3 linked regions of the Homo sapiens genome follow. The protein of the gene in region 3 purifies or fractionates together with the protein of the main gene of each other region. This does not show direct contact. Each region holds a gene or a part of one and is shown on either strand. Other genes may lie near its edges.

Region 1 (7,457 bases), on a different chromosome or scaffold from region 3:
TACCTTCCTCTGTTTTTTTTTTAATGGTCTTTACATCAAGGTGCTGCAGCCAGTGGGGCATGAGGCAGAGTTTTCACCTGGGTCAGAAGGTTTTGGAACTCTTCCACTGCCTGTGAATGTGCCTTGGGGTTGAGCACCAGGTGTTGGAAGAGATTGACCGGCTCAGCATTCCTAAATGTCTTAGGGATTGGGATGGTCAGGGGCAGAAAATTGTTACCAATGAGGAAATGATGGAGGGACCTTTGCTGGAGGCCACGGCCCAAGAACCAGAGAATGTCCTGGAGCCGCTGAGAGAGCATGTTGTGGGCCCAGTCCGTGAGGGGCAGCCGTAGCAAGAGGTGCATGAGAGCTGTTTTAAAATGGTAAGAAGTGAGGATGGGGCGGGATGCTCCATGGGGTAAGCTCTGATGCTGCCGGAGACTTAAAATGATCTGGAGGCACTTGAGGTGACAGGTGTTCTCGGGGGCAAAGCGCCCCACCAGCTTCAGGAACAGGTGCTCACAGGCCACAAAGGACTCAGGCCAGTCCACACTGGTGAGCTGCTCCTGGTCAGGAGCCTGACTCACCAGGTAGACCAAGGTGTCTTCTCGTTGCACCCCCAGGACCAAGTGGATTGAGAGAAAGCGGCCTGAGCGATAGTCCAGCCGGAGCTTGCAGGAGGTGGTAGACGGTGGGAGACTGAGTTTAAAGTCATACTTGTGGGCCACAAGGGCCCAGGCATTGCCCATCATGTTCCGGAACCACTGCACAGTCTTGCACACGTCTAGGTGGAAGCCGGTGCAGAGAGCTGCCTTGATGGAGCTACTACACTTCCCCAAGACTGCCGAGGGGTCCCTGTGGTGGTGCACCAGGCACAGCACGTCCCCTAGGAGTTTCTCACGCTTGCACACACATTCTGACTCCACCAGCACACAGCCACAGCGGCGGCCCAGGGCTGGGTCCCTCATCTCCAGGACAAACATGGTGCCCTGTGGGGGGACAATGGGCACCAGGATATCAAATTTCTGGGTCTCATGGAGGGTTCCCCATTTCTCAAAGGCAGCCCCGATGCCCAGGCAGTCTTCCAATTGTGGGTGAGCCTCTTGGCGGCTGAGCACCCGACAGGCCTCAATGAGATCATCCACAAAACTCTCCACAAACTCACAGGTGCAGGGCAGGTCACGGATGGCATTTTGGACATAGTGTTTGTAAAAGGAGTCCAGGGCCTCCTGGGAGGGGAAGTCAGTAAGCCAGTTGTAAGAGGTGACAGGGACAACACGGACTTCCTCCTCCTCCTCCTCACTGCTGGAATCAAAGGCCGGTTCATGCTGCATGTTCTGTCGCAGGAGCTCAAAGACGAGAAAAAGGCAAAAGAGGCCAGTGTTCCACAGGTTTCCCAGCATCCAGCCCAGAGGCCCTTCCTGGCCATCGGCCTGGAACGGCCACCCCATGTCTTTCTTCCCCAGCACTAACTGGTCACTGGATGTGTCTCCTGTCCAGAAGTTCTCTGCCTTCTGCCTCTGCTCAGCGGCTCGCTTTCTCTCTTCAAACTCCATCTCTAGCAGGCGCATCTCCTCACTCATTCGCTTCTCCAGCTGCCGACTCCTGGCTAATGTGTCCAGGTCCATCCGATCACTGACCATCAGAGGGTGGTGAACAACATACATCACTGCCAAGAACAGCAGGCTTATCACAGCCATGGAGGCCTCTGCATCTGGAGAAGTAGGAGAGTAGGAGTCAGTGGTCATCTTCCAGACTTATCTGCTCTCTAGCTCACATTCCCCAGAGCCCTGGTACCCCAAATTCTGAAAATCAGCTACTCAGGAGGAACAGAAAGCCCACAGAGCTTGGCTTGGACACAGCAAGGGTGGTCGGCCTGGGAGGAGGTTCGAGAGAAAAGAGGGCGAAAGGATGTGCCACTCAGTCTCTCTCCTGCTTTCCTTCCACATGGTGTGGGTGGTATTTAGGCTTCCAGAAAGTGTACATGGGACTGTTTTCATTCCTGTGTAGGATGGGGAGGGGGACCCTTGTGGTAGGGTGGCCTCACCCGACTCCTCAGTCAACCATGGGCACCAGATATGACCTGCTGATCCCAGAGGCTCCCTTTTATAGCCAGAAAGCCCTGAACCTGCCTGGGTGACACCTTTCCTCTGCCCCGGCAGCCAGTTGTAGCATTCCACTTCCTCTGTGACTTCACAGTCTTCATTCTGCTCACCCAGTATGAAGTGAGCCTCATCACTCAGCCTCTCCCTCTCTGCCCAGGGAGCGCAAGAGAGGCACAGTGCCGCCAGCTGCTTGCTACGGTGCCCTCTCTGCTCCTAAGGGGCTAGTGGATACCCCGTGTGTGGGCAGGCTAGCTTCACTTCTTAGTTCAGAAAACTGTCTGCAGAACCAGGTGCCCAAGGCCTACCTGACAGCCGGCAGTGGTCAGTTCCACTGCCTCCCCACCCACCCGTGAAGCCCGAGCTTCTGCCACTCACCCTAATTCACAAGCTACCGCGCTTACCAACATTCATGAAGGACTATGCCGTGTGGACGCTGAAGCCAGCTGGGCCTATCCTCCCTTTGGAACTTGGCCTTGCTTCGTCTCCCCGCCCTCTCTAGGAGCCCTGTTAAAATGTACAAGGTACCTGGGGGCTTTGGCTCAAATCGGAACCCGACCCTCCCCCCATTCATAACTTCCCCAAATTCCACGCCCAGAGATTTGTACTCTCACCCGCCTATCCGTAGGAGGCCAAGGGCCCATCCTACCTCGGGATGTCTCCCGGGACCCAGGGCCAGGTTACTCACCGTCAGTGTTAGTAGGAACACGATCTTAAAGAGACAGCGCGGCCTGACCGCCACTGCTTTTTTCCCGGCAGGGTGGGGGCGTCCGGTTCATCGCTGGGGCCGCCCGCGGGAGTGGCCCTGCTCCCCTTTCCTGGGTTATAGACCATGCTTGTCCGAGCGTCTGAACGTCTGGCTGAGCGCGGTGGGCCCCTACGACCCCCAGCACGCGGCTCCGAGGGCGCCCGCGCGCCGCAGCCGCTCCCGCCGTCCGGGCTCCTCCCCGCCCACCCAGTACAAGCTCCTCCCCGCCCAAACCCCCGTGGCCCAGCGTGCAGGGGCAGCGGCCTCCCCACACCGGGTCTCTGTCCGCACCGAGGCCCCCGTGGGTTTGCTGGGAGAGTGGAGGGGCCGTGGCCACACACTCTCCGCTGCTCGGCCTCCCTGGGGTGGCAAATGGGGCACCGCCGTGCCTGCTGTCAGCTGCACTCAGCTCAGTTCAGTGGAGAACAGACTTACTAGGATTCGGGTGTAAGGATGATGGTGGCAAAACTAGGAATTGACCGAGAAAAGCCATTCTCACTTCGGGCTGGCCCTGAGCAAAATGGCACACGAAATAAGATGTGGTTTCAGCACCCTAAATGTGCTTCCCTCCCAGCCCACGCCCAGACTCAGGCATCTTTCCCCAACCCCTTTCTCATATCAAAGTGACTCTCATGAAAGAACAGACAGCACCCAAAGACCTTACTTGGGGCCTTGCTTGCTACTCACTGGCCACGTGGGAGTAAGAATCCTACCTACAGGGCAGCTCTGCTGATACATGGGTGTATAAAGGAGAACTTTATACGGTGTGGAGGCTGGACAAGCTTTATCACACCTTAAGAAACACAACAGAATGGGTTTCCTGAAAGGGATCTTCAGATATCAGAAAGAGCCCTTAGTCTTCCTGTCTTGTGTCAGCTATCCAAGAAGAAAAGGAAGTGATGACCCCTTGATACTAACTCACTAAAATCCCTCTGCTGAAAGACAAGTTTCAGGGTTTTTATTTGTTTGTTTGTTTTTGAGAAAGAGTTTCGCTCTGTCACCCAGGCTGGAGTGTAGTGGCACCATCTTGGCTCACTGCAGCCTACCCGCCCCAGGTTCCAGTGATTCTCCTGCCTCAGCCTACTGAGTAGCTGGGACCACAGGTGTATGCCACCATGTCCAGCTAATTTTTGTATTTTTAGTAAAGACGGGGTTTCACCATGTTGGCCATGCTGGTCTCGAACTCCTGACCTCAGGTGATCTGCCCGCCTCGGCCTCCCAAAATGCTGGGATTATATGTGTAAGCCATCACACATGGCTGGGTTTCAGGTCTTCTTATCCAGTGGCAATGTGTAGGGAGCTCCCAAACAACTTGTACAATACTTCCAAGAATACTGACTTATTTAATTGTGGAGCAGGAAAAACTGTCTGCTAGCTGACAATGACTGAAGTTCCAAAGTTACTTTTTATAAATGTGAATTATGAAAAATAGATCACAGGTTATTGAGCATTCATGCATTTGGAGCAGTAATAATGAAAGTCTCTTATCTTTTCACTTATGACATGATGTCAGGATGCAAAATATATGCTTCAGAGTGTGCAAAAACGATAATGTTTAAGACCATGTGTTTTAAAGTTGTATTATTTTAATTAACAAATAATAATTGTACATATTCATAGGGTGCACAGTCATGTTTCATACATACAATGTATAATTTCAGATTAGGGTAATTAGCATATCCATCATCTCAAACATTTATCATTTCTTTGTGTTGGGAAGGTTCAATCCTCCCTCTAGCTATTTGAAACTATATATTATTACTATTATTATTTTGTGTGTGTGTGTGACGGAGTCTTGCTCTGTCACCCAGGCTGGAGTGCAGTGGCACCATCTCAGCTCACTGCAACCTCCACCTCCTGGGTCAAGCAGTTTTCCTGCCTCAGCCTCCCAAATAGCTGGGATTACAGGCACACACCACCAAGCCCGGCAATTTTTTTGTATTTTAGTAGAGTGGGGGTTTCACCATGTTCTCGAGCTCCTGAGCTCAAGCAATCTGCCCACCTTGGCCTCCCAAAGTGCTGGGATTACAGGCATGAGCCACCATGCCTGGTCTATTATTGTTAACTGTAGTCAACCTACAGTGGTGTGAAACCCTAGTACTTAGTCCTCCCATCTGGCTATAATCTTGAATCCTTTAACAAATCCCTCCCTATCACCACCTTCCCCTCCCCTTCCCAGCCTCTAGCATCCTCTGTTCTACCTTTTACTTCTATTACATCAACTTTTTCTAGGTTCCACATGTGACTGAGAACATGTGGTGTTTATCTTTCTGTGCCTGGCTTATTTCACTTAATATCCTCCAATTCCATCCAAGTTGCTGCAAATGACAGGATTTCATTTTTTTTTATGGCCAAATAGCATTCCATTGTGTACATATACCACGTTTTCCTTATTCATTCATCTATTGTTGGACACATAGGTCAATTCCATATTGGCTATTCTGAATAGTGCAGCTATAAACATGAGGGTGCAGATTTCTCTTTGATATAATGATTTCCTTTCCTTTGGATAGATTTTAAGTAATGGGATTGCTAGATCATGTGAGTAGTTCTACTTGTAGTTTTCTGAGGAACCTCCATGTTATTCTCCATAGCAGCTGTGCTAGTTTACCCAACAGCATATCAGAGTTCCCTTTTCTCCCCATTTTCACCAGCATCTGTAAAACCATATGCTTAAAAATGTGTGTTCATGGTTAAGGATTTGTTTTAAAAGTGGTTGCTGGACAGGCGCGATGGCTCACGCCTGTAATCCCAGCACTCTGGGAGGCCGAGGCAGGCAGATCACCTGAGGTCAGGAGTTCGAGACCAGCCTGGCCAGCATGGTGAAACCCCGTCTCTACTAAAAATACAAAAAAAAAAAAAAAAAAATTAGCTGGGTGTGGCGGTGCATGCCTGTGATCCCAGCTACCAGCCTGGCCAGCACGGTGAAACCCCGTCTCTACTAAAAATACAAAAAAAAAAAAAAAAAATTAGCTGGGCGTGGTGGTGCATGCCGGTGATCCCAGCTACTCAGGAGGCTGAGGCAGGAGAATCGCTTGAATCCGGGAGGTGGAGGTTGCAGTGAGCTGAGATCGCACCACTGCACTCCAGCCTGGGCAACAGAATAAAACTCCTTCTCAAAAAAAGAAAAAAAAAAAAAAAAGAACATGCTATGGCTTACTCCCATTATGTGTGTGTGTCTGTGCATCACATGCCTCGGAAAAGTTTCAAAGGGTGGATCCCTAAATGTTTACAGTGATCTTCTGAGGGTGGAGGGATTGATTGCAGGTGTCTAGCAATAAGGAGGTATTCTTTTCACAAAAATAAACATGCAGTGTCCAGCGTATGAATGGGCTGTGTGCCCAAAGCCCTCCCTCGTGTGCCTCGTGAGCACAAAACACGTTTTCTACAGAAACAGGTGCGCCTAGGACCGCTAGAGACGCTTTGCGCCGGGGCAGTGTCTTCACGGTTCGGAGAGCTGGGAGTGGAGGTGGGGGGAGGTTCCTCATCCTCGCCAGCTTTCTGGGCCCCAGGAGCCGCCTCCCTTCGCCCCCGACCCCGCCTCCGTCCCCCAAGCCGCGGACGCGCCTTTTCCGCCGCCTCCAAGAGCAGCCGCGGGGCCGCCCCCAGGACGCGTTGTTCGCTGCCGGAGTTTGGGGTGGCAAGGACCGGGCGCACGGCTGAGATGCGCTGCCCTCCAGAATGCGAGCCTGTGCACGCGCCTGCGGAGGGGCCACACTCCCTGCAGCGTCCGCGATGCGCTGTTCCCGCTGGCGCTCGGCGGGCGCTCCCCTGGGCACATCGAGGCTCTAGTGACCGCATTATGAATTAGTCCTTTCCTTTTCTCCTCATGTGATTGCAGCGAGCGCTCGTCTTGTTTGTAAATCGTGCTGGCAAGCCCCGTTTTAACCAACTACGAATTTCATTTCGGAATGAAAAAGGAGACGCACTTTCGGACAGGGCAGCGGTTGCCGCCGGTCCTTCCTCTGAGCTACCGGTCCCTAGAAGGAAGACCTGCCTTCGACCGATCTGGAAATGAGTCCCAGCTGCAAGCCCAGGGCGGCGGAAGCCCCACGGGCCGAGCCGAAGAAAGACGAGGCGGGGGACGGGGAGCGTAGTGCCGCGTGCCGGGACCCACAACCCCTTTCCCCTGGGCGCTCTTCCCCGAGCGGACAGGAAAAAGCTCTCCTTTGCCGCTGCCCATCCCCCAGGGCCCAAGCGATGCTTCCTAACCGCGTGGACGCAGCTTGATGGGGGAGAAAGAGCTCTGGGAGCAGGGCTTAGAGCCTCGTCTCGCCTCCTGCCAACTCGGTCCGGCAAGGTTCCGAACCTCCCTGAGCCTCAGCTTCCTAATCTGGCAAACATGACGACAAAAGTCCTTCTCTTTTAAGGTTGGTGCAAAAATTAAATGGCCCTTTACTGTATATTTAGAGCACCTGGCTCACGGATTAGTCACCTCGCTCCTGGGCTCAACAGTGTTCACTGGGTCCTTACAGCATCACACTGGGATCCTTAAGGGCAAAGACCAAAATTAGACCTAGCTTAATTCCTGGTGTGCAAGTGCTAAGTGTTATGAAATGAGTGAGTGACAGGATGATCCAGCTATGAGAAATAGGAGAGAGTTTGCGGTGGGATAGAGACTGTACCTT
Region 2 (7,025 bases), on a different chromosome or scaffold from region 3:
CAAAATCAAGTTTGAACCCTGCTCCCATGCAATGGTCATACTGGGCAAACATGTTTCCCAAGATGACTCAACATGGAACCTTTCAGTGTAAAGAATGAATGGGAATCAAACTGAATCCAAATCCAGACAATTCCACTTACTAGTCGGATGACCACAGACAAATTACTTAACCTCTGAGTCTATATTAAATGGCTACAGCCAGTCATGCTGTTAAATGTGTTTTCCCTATCTTCTCTTTCTGTTATCATTATTTGTTACATGATTATGTCCCTACTTTGATCTACCGTCCAATTTTATATTCAGTAGTCTTGCCTAAGGGCAGATCATCTGTTCTGTGAAATAAAGCGCACTGACTTTCATGCCTAGGTGTTATGAAAAATATCTGTTACTTGGAGAACCTTTTCTTTTTTATCATTTCTAGATTTATCATCTCAGCTCCAGATGGCTGAGACTACTGAAGGTCTGGCTTCTATCCAGACCTTGGATAGAAGGGCCACAAATCCATTATGGCCTGCCAATATCTGTATTTGATATGCTTCAACCCTCTGCCCAGAATAATGCAGGGAAGTGGAGAAATGATGCTTATGAGACTTCTGAACTGAAGCTTAAAGAAAGAGGTAAGCAGGAAGAAAAGCATTAGACTGGGAAGCACAAAGACAACACGAACTTGCTGGATTTACTCTGACTTTTCTCAGGCCCAGTTCAGTCTGACTTATGTATTTCTACTCAGTTTAGAAAAGACCCATTTTATGCCACTGCACTCCAAATAAGTCATTTAATTTATGACGAATAATTTTATTTATAATACAGAATTTTAAAGCTTATTACTTATCGCTGCAATCCTGAAAATGAAGTAATGTTAACACCATGATATCACAATAAAACTATCTTCAGCCTCTGATTTCTTCCTTTCTTACTATACTAACTGTGAGTAAAGTACGTTCTTAGGGCACAGAACCCCTTGCAGTTGTGCAGGGCTTAAAAATCTTCTGCATGGATCTCCTATGCATGTGCAGATCATTCTAGAAATTCTGAGCCAGTCAGGGTGGTTCACGCCTATAGTCTCAGCTACTCTGGAGGACCACTTGAGCCCAGGAATTTGAGGCTGCAATGAGCTCTAATTGCTACTGCACTCCAGCCTGGGCAACAGAGTGAGGCCCTGTCTCTTAAAAAAAAAAAAAAAAGATTGCTACTAACATTATTTTCCCAGAATACAGTGTTCAAAGACTGTATACAGTTCTCAGATCCCTAAATTCCTTTATCTCATTGACTATTCTCATTCCCTCTCTGCTTGTCGCCCAGATATACCTGTAAGACTGGGAATTAGTCCCTGCCCGTATCCTAAAGAAGAAGGATAGGGAGAGACCACTGAAAACCTCAGGGAACTGATCATAAGATTTTTCCTAATAGACTGGTGGCCTCAAAGCATCTATAAATAAACAGTTGCCTGCCTCTAATTTAAAGTTGATATTTCTTACATCATTACCTACCTTGTTATGCACATTACAATTGCTACTATGATGGCAATCTGTACAGCTCCAATAATTGCTGCAATAAGAACATGAGTGAGCTTTTGCCTACTTGGCACTACATAGAGAATACTAAAGTCTGTCTTTTCACAGTGCTGTCCAGTGTAGCCAGATTCACATCTGAAAAGGAAAAATATATATATTCCTATGAAAATTACAAATTTTGATACTCCCAAGCTTTTACATTAAAAAATACAAAATAGTAATAAAATTTAAACAGGAATAGGATATCATGCACTTTCCTACCATCTGGGGGAAAAATGTCATTTGTATGTTTCCCTACTGTCTTTCTGATATGCCTACATGGTGCGTCTTTCACCTAAGTTATATCACATTAATTTTAAAGTTGCTGAATATTGTTAATGTATATCTTTTTTTGTTATTGTTGCTTTTGCTTTTGGTGTCATATCTAAGAAATTATTGCCTAATCTAAAGCCACAAAGATTTACTCCTTTTTTTCACTTTTTAAATTAAATTTGCTTAAAAATTGACAAATAAAATTACGTATATTTATCATGTACAACAGGGATCCCCCCCAACTCCCGGGCCATGGACAGATATTGGTCCATGGCCTGTTAGGAACCAGGCCACACAGCAGGAGGTGAGTGGTGGGCAAGTAAGCAAAGCTTCTTTGTATTTACAGCTACTCCCCATCACTCACATTACCACCCAAGCTCCGCCTCCTGTCAGATCAGCACTGGCATTAGATTCTCATAGGAGCGCAAACCCTATTGTGAGCTGCGCACACAAGGGATCTAGGTTGAGTGCTCCTTATGTGAATCTAATGCCTAAGGATCTGTCACCGTCCCCCATCACCCCCAGATGGGACTGTCTAATTGCAGGAAAAACAAGCTCAGAGCTCCCACCAATTCTACATTATGGTGAGTTGTATAATTATTTCATTAAGTATTACCATGTAATAATAATAGAAATAAAGTGCACAATAAATGTAATGCACTTGAATCATCCCCAAACCATCACCCCCACCCCCAATCCCCAGTCCATGGAAAAACTGTCTTGTACGGAACTAGTCCCTGGCAACAAAAAGGTTGGGGACCACTGATGTACAACATGATATTTGGAAATGTATAGACATTGTGGAATGGCTAAATCAAGCTAATTAACATATGCATTACCTCATATAGTTATCATGTCTGTGGTGAGAACACTTAAAATCTACTCTCTTAGCATTTTTTTCAAAATAGATACATATAATTTCAAAACAGAAATATAATACTCCATCCAGTGACTATAATATAGCTAGCATTATCTATTCCCAGTTCTAAGACATGTCAGTTATTTTCAATTTTTCACAATTATAAATTAGATGTGGTAAACATCTTGGTGAATATGCGCTTTTCTATATTTAGTGTTATTCCTTAGGGCTAAGTACCTGAAAATTAAGACTATTGAAAAAATAGGTATAAACATTTACAGTCCTCTGAACATAGCACCAAATTATATTCAAGACACTTTTCAGTGTATAAAATATAAACATGTAAGATGCAAGGGGAAGATGAAAATAAGTTATTAATAACAGAAACAATGTCAAGCAGTCAAGGAGGTAAGCTGTAGGTGCTAATCTTGGAAATTATCTGAATTCCAATTAAAAGTAGATAAAAAGACAACTGCATCAGCTGATGATAATTTGACAGGGAGAAATATTTAAGACACTTAACAGACAATTTACATTTTTAAGCTGACAGCAGTGAAATGTATAAATTAGCCAGCCTTCAGTGAGAACTGATTAATAAAACATTTGAAGTATAAAAACAGTATTTATGAATGTCCCACAACTCATTAAGAAAAGAATTTGAGGCAGCTTATCGCAAAGCACACATTAAAACAACAAAAAAGAAATGTGGGAGGAGGGAAACAGGGAAATCCAGGGGTGCTGCAAGTCTACCAATCCAGTCCCTGAGGTTCCTAGACACTTCCCAGTACATTTCACATTGGGCTCTACGCTTTCCAGCAAACAAAAAAAAACAAGCAGTGGGCAGGTATGTGGATCATGGAAGAGAATGGAGAGCCTAGAAATAAACCCATACATCTATGGTCAATTGGTTTTGACAAGGGTGCTAAGATAACTCAATGGGGAAAGAACTGTTTCTTCAACAAATGGTGCTAACTGGATATCCACACACAAAAGGATGAAGCTAGACCTCTTCCTCGTGTCATACACAAAAATTGCCTCAAAATGGATCGCAGATCTAAACGTAAGAGCTAAAACTATAAAACTCTGAAGAAAAAAAACATAAGATACAGTTATTATGGAAAACCGTATGGAAGTTCCTCAAAAAATTAAAAATAAAACTACCATATGATCCAGCAATCTCATTACTGGGTATATAACTATAGGAAATAAAATCAGTATATTGAAGAAATATCTGCACTACCACGTTTATTGCAGCATTATTCACAATAGCTAAGATATGGATTTAATCTAAGTGTCCATTAACAAATAAATGGATAAAATAATGAGGTATATATACAAAATGGAATACTATTCAGCCATAAAAAAGAAGGAAATCCTATCATTTGCATGGATGAACCTCCAGAACATTATATTAAGTGAAATAAGCCAAGCATAGAAAGACATATACTGAGTGATCCCACTCATATGTGGAACCTAAAAAAGTTGATCTCATAGAAGTAGAGAGTAGAATAGTGGTTACCAGGGACTGGTGTGGTAGGAGGTGCTTTGAGGACATGTTGGTCAGGGGATACTAAATTTCAGTTAGATGGGAGGAATAGGTTCAAGAAATGTAGTGTACAACATGGTGACTATAGTTAACAATGCAGTGTATTCTTGGAAAATGCTGAGGATTTTAAGTGTTCTCACCACAAAAGTGGTAACAATGTGAGGTAATGCATATGTTAATCAGCTTGATTGGACATTTCACAATGTATATATATTTCCAAATATGATGTACATAATATGTATACATAATTTTGTCAATTTTTAAATAAATTTAATTTTTAGAAGAGAATAAAACATAGGAGTAAATCTTTGTGACCTTAGATTAGGCAACAGTTTCTTAGATATGACACCAAAAATCAAAAGCAACAACAACAACAAAAAAGATAAATAGCACTAAATCAAAATTAAAATCTTTTGTACTTAAGGACATTATCAAGAAAGTGAAAAGACAAGCCACAAAATGGAAAAAAAAAGTAAGTTCCATATATCTGATAAGGGACTTATATCTAGAATATATAAATAACTAATACAACTCAATAATAGCCAAAAAATAAAAGAGCAAAGGATGTGTACTGACATTTCTCCAGAGAAGATATACAAATAGCCAATAAGCACATGAAAAGATGCTCAACATCATTAGCCATCATGGAAATAAAAATCAAAGCCACCGTATATGCCAGTTTTTACAGTTACTACGATAGCCTAAATCAAAAAGTCAGATAATTACAAGTGTTGTCAAAGGTACTGTAGGGTGTGTAAAATGGTGCAGCCACTTTGGAAAACGGTCTGGCAGCTCCTCAAAATGTTAAACACAGGGTTACCATTTGGCCCAGCAATTCTACCACTAAGCTTTACCCAAGTGAAATTAAAACACGTTCACACAAAAACTTGCAAATGATCATTCAGAGCAGCATTTTTCATAATAACCATAAAGTGGAAAGAACCTAAATTTTCATCAACTGATGATGAGTAGATTAAAAACATGTGGTGTCATCCATACAATGGAATAGTATTCAGCCACAAAAAGGAATGAAGTACTGATATGTGTTATGACATGGATGAACCTGGAAAATATTACGCTAAGTTAAAAAAAGCTAGACACAGGAGACCCCATACTATATAGTTCAATTTACATGAACTATCCAGAATAGGTAAGTCTATAGAGATAGAAAATAAATTAGCGGATGCCTAGAGCTAGAGAGCATGAGGGGATTTGGGAGTAAAAGCTAAAGGGTATGAGGTGTCCTCTTGAGGAGATGAAAATGTACTAAAATTGATTGTGGTGATGGTTGCACAACTCTGTGCATATATTAAACACCAATGGAGAAGGAAGGAAGGAAGAGAGGGAGGGAAGGAAGGAGGGAGGGAGGACAGTTGACACAAAATACAATCTCCATAAAATAAAATCAAACAAGTCATTCAAAAGAAGCACAGTTATTACTGTTATGAAACTTAAGGGAACTTAATCTCATTGGTCCTCATTTAAAGAGGGCACCTTCTAACATAAAGAACATTATCCTCAACAACACAGCTGCAGTAAATTCAATGATATAATGAAGTCTCATGGGATTTTTTAAATAATGTCCTTCATGGTAGGCTAATGGCCAATAGTCAAAGCTCAGTAATATAAAAACAGTTCCATAAGGAGCTGTAACAATGTCCTAGATATGCAGCTCTCTAATGGTTTGGCTTAAGCCAAAGATTAAAATCAGAGTATCAAAAAGAACCAATAGGCCATATATCATCCCTGCAGTTCTCCCTGGATATCATTTTCTCCAACTGACTTTTGGTTATACTATCTGATATGGTTTGGCTGTGCCCTACCCCAATCCCATCTTGAATAGTAACTCCCACAACTCCCATGTGTCGTGGGAGGAACCCAGTGGGAGGTGATTGAATTATGGGGGCAGGTCTTTCCTGCACTGTTCTTGTGACAGTAAATGAGTCTCACGAGATCTGATGGTTTTAAAAACTGGAGTTTTGCTGCACAGGCCCTCTCTTTACTGGCTGCCATCCAGGTAAGATGTGACTTGCTCCTCTTTGCCTTCCCCCATGATTGTGAGGCCTCCCCAGCCACGTGGAACTGTAAGTCCAATTAAACCCTTTATTTTGTAAATTGCCCAGTCTTGGGTATGTCTTTATTAGCAGTGAAAACAGACTAATACACTCTCCTAATACCTAGAGTACTAACTTCTAGGTTATTACTTCTTCTTCTGTTACTGATTAAAGGCAGATCCAGGGATTCAGTCCTCCACTTTCTATTTTCATCCCAAAACACCTTCCACAGGCAATCCCATTCACTCCCACTGTCTCACGTGTGAATTCATTCACACATCCATTTACCACAATTATTGAGCACCTACTGTGGTGAGCATTTGGGATGTATCAGTGAACAGAACAGATAAAGATCCCTGGCCTGCTTACCAGCTACCGGGAGAAGAGTGTCAATAAACAAAGTAAGTGAATTAAATGGTTATGTTAGAAGGTGATATGCACTACAGGGGATGTGGGGTGTGAGGTGTTAAGGGAAACTGCGAACACCAGGTATGAGCCAGGAAAGTTGCAGGAAGGGAGGGTTGCAATTTTAAATAAGGCAATCCGGGTAGGTTAAGAAGGTAACACGTGAGTAAAGACTTGAAGGAGGTGAGGAGCCTGCCATGCAAACAATTGGAGGACAGCATACCAGGCAAAGGAAGAGCCAGTGCAAGTCCCCTAAAGTGGGAGCATCCATGCATGCATGGCATGCCCAAGAACAGCAAGTGTGGCTGCAGAAGAGGGGGTGAGGGAGAGGAGAG
Region 3 (7,046 bases):
GTGCTCTGTCATAGTGTCTGCATCATTGATTTTCTTCCCTGTCTCCCATGAGCCTGTGAAGTACTGTGAGTGGGGACCCTATGGTGTTAATTTCTTGTATCTCTAGGTGATGTATGATCGATATTCAATAAATACCCATTAGTTAAAGAATAGCAACATTGCAGCTTTCTTAATCCTTAATGAAAGGTTCTTTATTACACCCCAGTAAGCCCTTGATGAATAATAATCAATTAAAATTACTAAGCAGAGACTGTGTTCCAGGCACTGCCCTGGGCACTCTATGTGTGTTTACTCATTGAATCCTCTCAGAACTTTCACAAGTCCATTGACAGAAGGTGAAACGGAGGCACCAGGGCACTTAAGTGACCAAAGACCTAGCTGTTAAATGTTAGGATTCAGACCCAGGCAGTTTGGCTTCAGAAGTCACATTCAGTACAATACATTTTATCTCCTATTTCCGACGTGATCTGCTATTATGGGTAGAAAACAAGTAAAATAGGAAGGCATCTCAAAACCTTAACGTACACTAACTCATACCTATCTGAACAAGAGAGACTAGGAGAACTGGGGGAAGGGAATGGGAGCAGGGAGGAAGAGATGTTGATTCAAATGAAGGAGTTTATTAGTTTATTTGTAGCATATTTTAAAGTAAGTAAAGGTTTTATAAATGGATTTAGAGTACTGTTTTAACAGTATTTTAATAATAAAACAATTTAGACTGAAATTTCGATTGAAAAAAGATGGTGAATATCTAGAATAGGCTTTTATGCTGTTAATTGATTTTTAAACTACTTTTTAGATATTTGCAGAGATTTAACAAAATATTTTTATTCTTCTCTTTGGGCTTCCAAAACACCACAGCCATCTGTGTTACTGTCACAGCTTTCAGAGGATTCTCACATGTGTTATCTCATTTTATACAATGCCCAGACTTCTTGAGAAGGTGATAAACCCCCCAGACTGGAGAACACCACGCGTCCTCTACACAGGCCACGTCCAGGGCTGCCTAACAACTCCAGCAGGTCTTAACCATAGCAGAGAGAAAAGTATCCCTGTAAACGGCTTTATTAGGTGCGAAGCTCTTTTAAATGTAAGCTTCTTGAGGATGATGACTTGATCTCATCCAACATTTTATCCTATAGAATGCTACAGAACCAACCTACAATAGATATCTAGTAAATATCTATAGAATAAATAAATGAATTAAAGTCATATAGAAACCTGAGTTAATATTTATTCCATTAACTGACTGGTCATGGTACTAATTAGCTCTAGGAAGCCAGATGAAAGTAATTTATGCAAGGGATCATTACCATTGTCACTAACGCGATACATAAACATGTGAGTGAACATTTTGTGGAGTAGCATATTCTTTGTGGTTTTATGTCCAAAAAGTGCAGTGAACCCGCAGAGAGAAAACATGCTAAAATATAAGAAGTGTGCAGTCCTACCAGTAAGCACAGTTAGATGTGTGATCATCCATAGACTCAGGGCCATTTATTTATTTATTTATTTATCTATCGAGACAGAGTCTCGCATGGTCGCCCAGGCTAGAGTGCAGTGGCGCAATCTCGGCTCACTGCAACCTCCGCCTCCCAGGTTCAAGGGATTCTCCTGCCTCACCCTCTTGAGTAGCTGGGATTATAGGTGAGTGCCACCGTGCCTGGCTAACTTTTATATTTTTAGTAGAGATGGGGTTTCACCATGTTGGCCAGGCTGGTCTCGAACTCCTGATCTCAGGTGATCCGCCTGCCTCGGCCTCCCAAAGTGCTGGGATTACAGGAGTGAGCCACCACACCCAGCCTGATTCAGGGTCTTTATGTAAAATATCCATAACATATCTGTTGGATTCACCCTCTGGTACGTCAGTGGCCAGAGAGATGGGAGAAGAATGATGGGAGACAGTTTTTTAGCACTTATAATGAGAGGCAATGTTGTAAGGACTTGGCAGTAGTAATACTCCCCATTTTACAGGTAAAGCAGCTGAAGCCAGATATTAGGTAACTTGTGTGTGGGGGGGCCACACAGCTTGTAAATTTCATTTGATCCTGATTTCAGAGCCCTTGCTCTTATTACACTATATTGTACTCAGAGTGACACCAAAAAAACAAAATACCACGCCCCCCTCCCCCAACACACACACAAACACACATATATAAAACCCTCACTGCCCTTTAAAGGAAGTCTCTTCACAGCTTCTATTTTGCCAAGTTTCTGTTACCACCATTCCCAACCTGGACATAAATGTTGCCAAAGCACTGCATAGAATTCATTGTGATTTTTTCCCCTCAGGCACATAGAAAAGATACGTTTAGTCTAAGTAAACACAAGTATAAACCACACAACAGACTTTTTTTTCACTTATCTAATTAGTAGTATTTAGCATTTAAAAAGCAAAGATTGGTACTCTTTGCTGGCGGGAGGGTAAATTGGTAAAATGTTTTTGTAGACCAAAAAGTACCGTTTTATATCTAAAGCTTTAGAAAATATACCCTTTGCCCTAGGAATTCTACCCCTGAGATTCTATCCTGAGAAATAATCTTATATTTCTAATAATTCCTATAGCATAGGAATATTCTATATTAAAATAACTTTGTTCCTTTTCCTTCATACTAAGTTATCCTGAAATATTGGCATTATTTGCATAGTTTTGCTTGATACTGTCTTTTGTCATTGTGAGTTTATACAGTAGTACATGAAGTGAGCCCTATTTTTTGACAAAGATATTTCTGGTGGACCCATCGCTTTCAGTCAACTTTATAAGAACTAACTAGACCTACCAGTCAGCAGAGAGAGTAAACTTACATTATTAATATAATTTTTGTTAGAAGTGATGGTAGCTTGTTCTTAAATAGATTGTTTTCCTTTTTACCTTTTACCTTAAAACTTAGGCTTTTAAAGTTTTTCTTTAAAAAGTTTGTTGAAAAAGCAAAAGATCTTGTACTTACATATCAGTGACTCGTTCGGGTCTCTGTGTAGTAGCTGTGAGTAGTTGTCCAAACTGAAGTAAGTTTTAACTGTGGCATGTTGTTTTAAGAGAGGCTGTGCAGACCTCCTTTTATGGTGGTGACTTTTTTTTTCTCTGTCACCCTGTGACTGAGCATGTAATGAGCAGTTAGCCTCGTGTACGTGTGTGCACTTTGTGTTTTTTTTTGTTTTAAATGGGAAGTGAAATTTTTTATAGTGATTAAAAAAAACTATCCAAAAGCCCCTTGGAATTTATGAATTGTTGATATCTGTGGAACTTTATAAATTTTTCTGTAAAGGTTTAAGTATCAAAAAATTCTTTGAAAGAGACTGAAGCAATAAACCTTAACCAAAAAAAAGACCAAGTTACTGATGATTTTATATTGATTTTGCATGTAAAAGTATGGGTTTTTAAATGTTTTAAGGAAAATAGTGTCAACTTTGACAGTGCTTTTTACCTGGAAACTTGGTATCAGGGAGTAGTTTACACATTCCACCTTATCCACAGCTTATGAGAAAGAAACAGGTTTCTGTGGCGTGGGGGTGAGTGACAGTCCAGGATGTGGAGTGGACTGGATTAGTCGCCGTTTTCAGTCGAGAGGCTGCCTGAGTCAGAGGCTGTGTGAGTACTTGAATAACAGGGAAACAGTTGAAGGGAGGCCCATTATAGATAAAATCCAGCCTCTTCAGCACAGGGTGAAAGAGACTCATGCCATTCACCTCATAGTTGTAGTTGACTCAGTTTAAACCAACTAACGTGTCTGTCAGAATGCAGTTTATTTGTAGGCTAAATTACCAGATATGTAGCACTCAGATCAGGAGAGGTGATGTTTACACTTAGTCAGGACTGATCTGGCCATTCCCAGCCACTTCTGGGTGCTGCTTTTTACGAAGACATAGATAACACCTGTGGCAGTGAGGGGCCTGGATAGCAGGTCTTAGGAGAACTGATTAAATAAGCTGGGGATGTGTATGCTTTGTAGGCATAGGGTCATTATCCTTATGCTTGTGGAAACTCTCATAGAAAAGTGTTTACATTGCTTGTGTCAGTCTTCCTAACTCCAGAGACTAGCGGGAGGGTCAGTAAGAAGTTACTGGACATAGCTTTTGGATCAAAAGATGAGAGTCATTCCCAAAAGTTGTGATTATTTTGAAAAATGGAATATGCTGTTTCTTATTTAGATGCTTGAGTAAACTTGATGATTTTGAGGGATGATGTAAACAGAATTGAATCATTTGGTAGGAATTTGTAACTCTGTGATCTCAGAAGCCTTTCTGCTCCAGGATTCTGTAAAAATAGTCGAGTAGCTTTTGCCTCCCACAGATGTCATTAGGTTCTTCTAACGTCTAAAGTGCTGTGAGTATGGAGGAACATTGTCAGACACAAGAAAGAGCATCAAGCAAGTCAGCTGAATTCTTTGGGCCGCCACCTCACTGTGTATAAAATAAAGGTATTGAACTAAATGATCTCCAAGGTAATTCCTAGTACAAAAATTCTATGAGGGGGTAATACAGAGATTTTATGACTTGGTGGATAAACATGACATCATATTCTAGAACTAGTTCATTTAAAACTTAGGCTGCAGAGTACTTGAAGAAGACACTGTTGATAAATTTTTCAGTTTGTTGAAAGACCATTCTGGTGGGGTTTTGCCTGTTAATTTTGAAATAGTTATATTAAGTAAAACATTTTTATATAGTGAAGGACTCAGCTAGTTCAAGTAATTCCTCTGACAAACTGGATCTGTCCTCCCAACCTTCTTTTTTTTTTTTGAGACAGAGTCTCGCTCTCACCAGGCTGGAGTGCAGGGGTGTGCTGTCGGCTCACTGCAACCTCCACCTCCCGGCTTCAAGCAATTCTCCTGCCTCAGCCTCCCGAGTAGCTGGGACTACAGGCATATGCCACCATGCCCAGCTAATTTTTGTATTTTTAGTAGAGACAAGGTTTCACCATGTTGGCCAGGATGGTCTCAATCTCTTGACCTCATGATCTGCCTGCATTGGCCTCCCAAAGTGCTGGGATTACAGGTGTGAGCCACCGTGCCCAGCCCCTTTTTTTTGATATCAGAGTAGTCAGGCAGATGAAGAAGAGGTGATGGGGTCATTATCCTGTAAGAGGCCGCTGAAGCTGTATATTAGATCATTTCATGAGCTCACAAACCTTGTTTTTATTGCTGTTGAAAGTTACCAGGGTTTCTTGAGTTGTGATTGTACTGTAAAAGTAGAGTTGGCCTTTACAGTTTTTTTGTTTGTTTGTTTGGAGACAGGGTCTCACTCTGTTGCCCAGGCTGGAGTGCAGTGGCACGATCTTGGCTCACTGCAACCTCTGCCTCCTGGGCTCAAGTGATCCTCCCACCTCAGCTTCCTAAGTAGCTGGGGCTACAGGCACATGCCACCACGCCCAGCTAATTTTTGTATTTTTTTGTGTGTGTGTGTGGAGACAAGGTCTCATTATGTTGCCCAGGCTGGTCTCAAACTCCTGACCTCAAGCCATCTGCCCACCTTGGCTTCCCAAAGTGCTGGGATTACAGGTATGAGCCACCACATCCAGTGACCTTTTCTATAGAAGAAGTGAAATGGACATTTGCAACCTTAACAAGGTGTCTCTGTTATTTTATGTTTTCTATCGAGTGCGATCATGAATATATAGCAGTAGATGCTCAGTAAATATTAGTGATTTTAAAGGATGAATTAGCAATGGCTCACGCCTGTAATCTCAGCAATTCAGAAGGCTGAGGCAGGAGGATTGCCTGATGCCAGGAGTCTGAGATCACTGTGGGGAACACAGCGAGACCCTGTTTCTAAAAAAAGTTTAAAAATTAGCCAGGTGTGGTGGCACACACCAGTAGTCCCTGTTACTCTGGAGGCTGAGGCGAGAAGATTGCTTGAGCCTAGGAATTAGAGGCTACAGTGAGCCGTGATTATGCCACTGCACTCTACTCCAGCCTGGGTGACTGACAGATACCGGTGTCTCAAGAAAAAAAGAAAGGATGGATGAAATGTTTATAACCTGCTTTCTCTTTTCTGTGCTACCAGCCTCATCTGCTTAAGCCAGAAAGGGCTTCCAGAAGGTAGTTCTTCACAGTATGAAAAAGGTCAAACTGAATTACTGTTGACAGTATAGAGAACAGATGTTGTCATAAAATAAGGAAAAGAAAAAGACTGGTCAGTGACTAATAACATTATGGTATTTTGTGAAGTCTGTGTGTGTAGAAATAGCAACGGAAAATTTCTGCAGAACAGCCCATATAATTTTGGTCTGAAATGTGTATGTGTGGCCTAGTATTTAGTCATCATTTAAAATTATACAGTGATTAATATTTTTAAAGGAGTTTTTAAACTTCTATTGGTATGTGAAATGTAAACTGTGGTCATTAAAATTTCTACCAGTATTTTTTTTAGTTTACGTTGAAATGTAACCTCAAAAAAGAACTCTGCTTTAGGTTATTTAGTTATAACATCACTATTTGTACTTTATTACTAAATGTAAACAGAAGAACTTCTATGAATTAAGCGCCTCCAAGGGCATGTTCTGTGGTAAGAGACCTCTGGTGCGATTGGCTCCCCAAATAGGGTTCTATAATCACCAAGAGAGCAGGCCATATTTTGAGCTACATATGAAACCATGTGTTTTAATCCCATTAAAAATGATAAAAAGGAAGGGGGCTTTTTAAAACAAAAGGCAAGTTCTGCTGTATGGTTTTACTGTTTTAAAGGAAAATTCATTTCTTCTGCAAATATTTATTGAAACCTTACTCTATGCCAGGCACAATTCTAGACAGTGGGAATAAAACAAAACAGACCAAAATCCCCATCTATGTGAAGCTTCCATTCTACTTTTAAGATAGATAGGCAGTGATGAGAAGGCTGTAAGTGCTGTGGGGGAGGACAGTCAGGAAGAGAGTAGAGAATGCAGAGGGGGAAGGCTGTGAGGGCGGGAGGTGCGGTTTGAAATGGGGCAGTCAGGGAGGACCTCTCTGAGAAGGTGCTGTCCTGCGGAGCACAGGATCAGAATGGGGATGGAGATTCAGGGCCTGGGACGTCTTTGTCATGACTGTAGGTGGGGAGGCATTGGAAGA

What was found. Proteins that work in one complex are often made in the same cells at the same time.
Region 1: the proteins of GPR183 (region 3) and ITPRIPL1 purify together in Homo sapiens (affinity purification with mass spectrometry; 3 studies listed by BioGRID and IntAct, with this or other methods). This does not show direct contact.
Region 2: the proteins of GPR183 (region 3) and TMEFF1 purify together in Homo sapiens (affinity purification with mass spectrometry, with the first as the bait; 3 studies listed by BioGRID). This does not show direct contact.

The regions. Positions count from the first base shown.
Region 1 is NC_000002.12:96,320,878-96,328,334, reverse strand, and holds the start of ITPRIPL1 (inositol 1,4,5-trisphosphate receptor-interacting protein-like 1), read right to left. Parts: upstream 3,019-7,457; 5' UTR 2,770-3,018; exon of another isoform or gene 2,589-2,769; 5' UTR 2,496-2,588; coding exon 2,486-2,495; intron 2,139-2,485; exon of another isoform or gene 1,728-2,138; coding exon of another isoform or gene 1,694-1,727; coding exon 36-1,693; 3' UTR 1-35. UniProt on the Homo sapiens protein: Functions as a ligand of CD3E, inhibiting TCR-CD3 complex signaling to regulate T cell activation.
Region 2 is NC_000009.12:100,567,142-100,574,166, reverse strand, and holds part of TMEFF1 (tomoregulin-1 precursor), read right to left. Parts: intron 1,650-7,025; coding exon 1,491-1,649; intron 1-1,490. Other genes in the region: MSANTD3-TMEFF1 fusion protein, read right to left, coding at 1,491-1,649.
Region 3 is NC_000013.11:99,304,392-99,311,437, forward strand, and holds the start of GPR183 (G-protein coupled receptor 183), read right to left. Parts: upstream 3,009-7,046; 5' UTR 2,949-3,008; intron 1-2,948. UniProt on the Homo sapiens protein: G-protein coupled receptor expressed in lymphocytes that acts as a chemotactic receptor for B-cells, T-cells, splenic dendritic cells, monocytes/macrophages and astrocytes.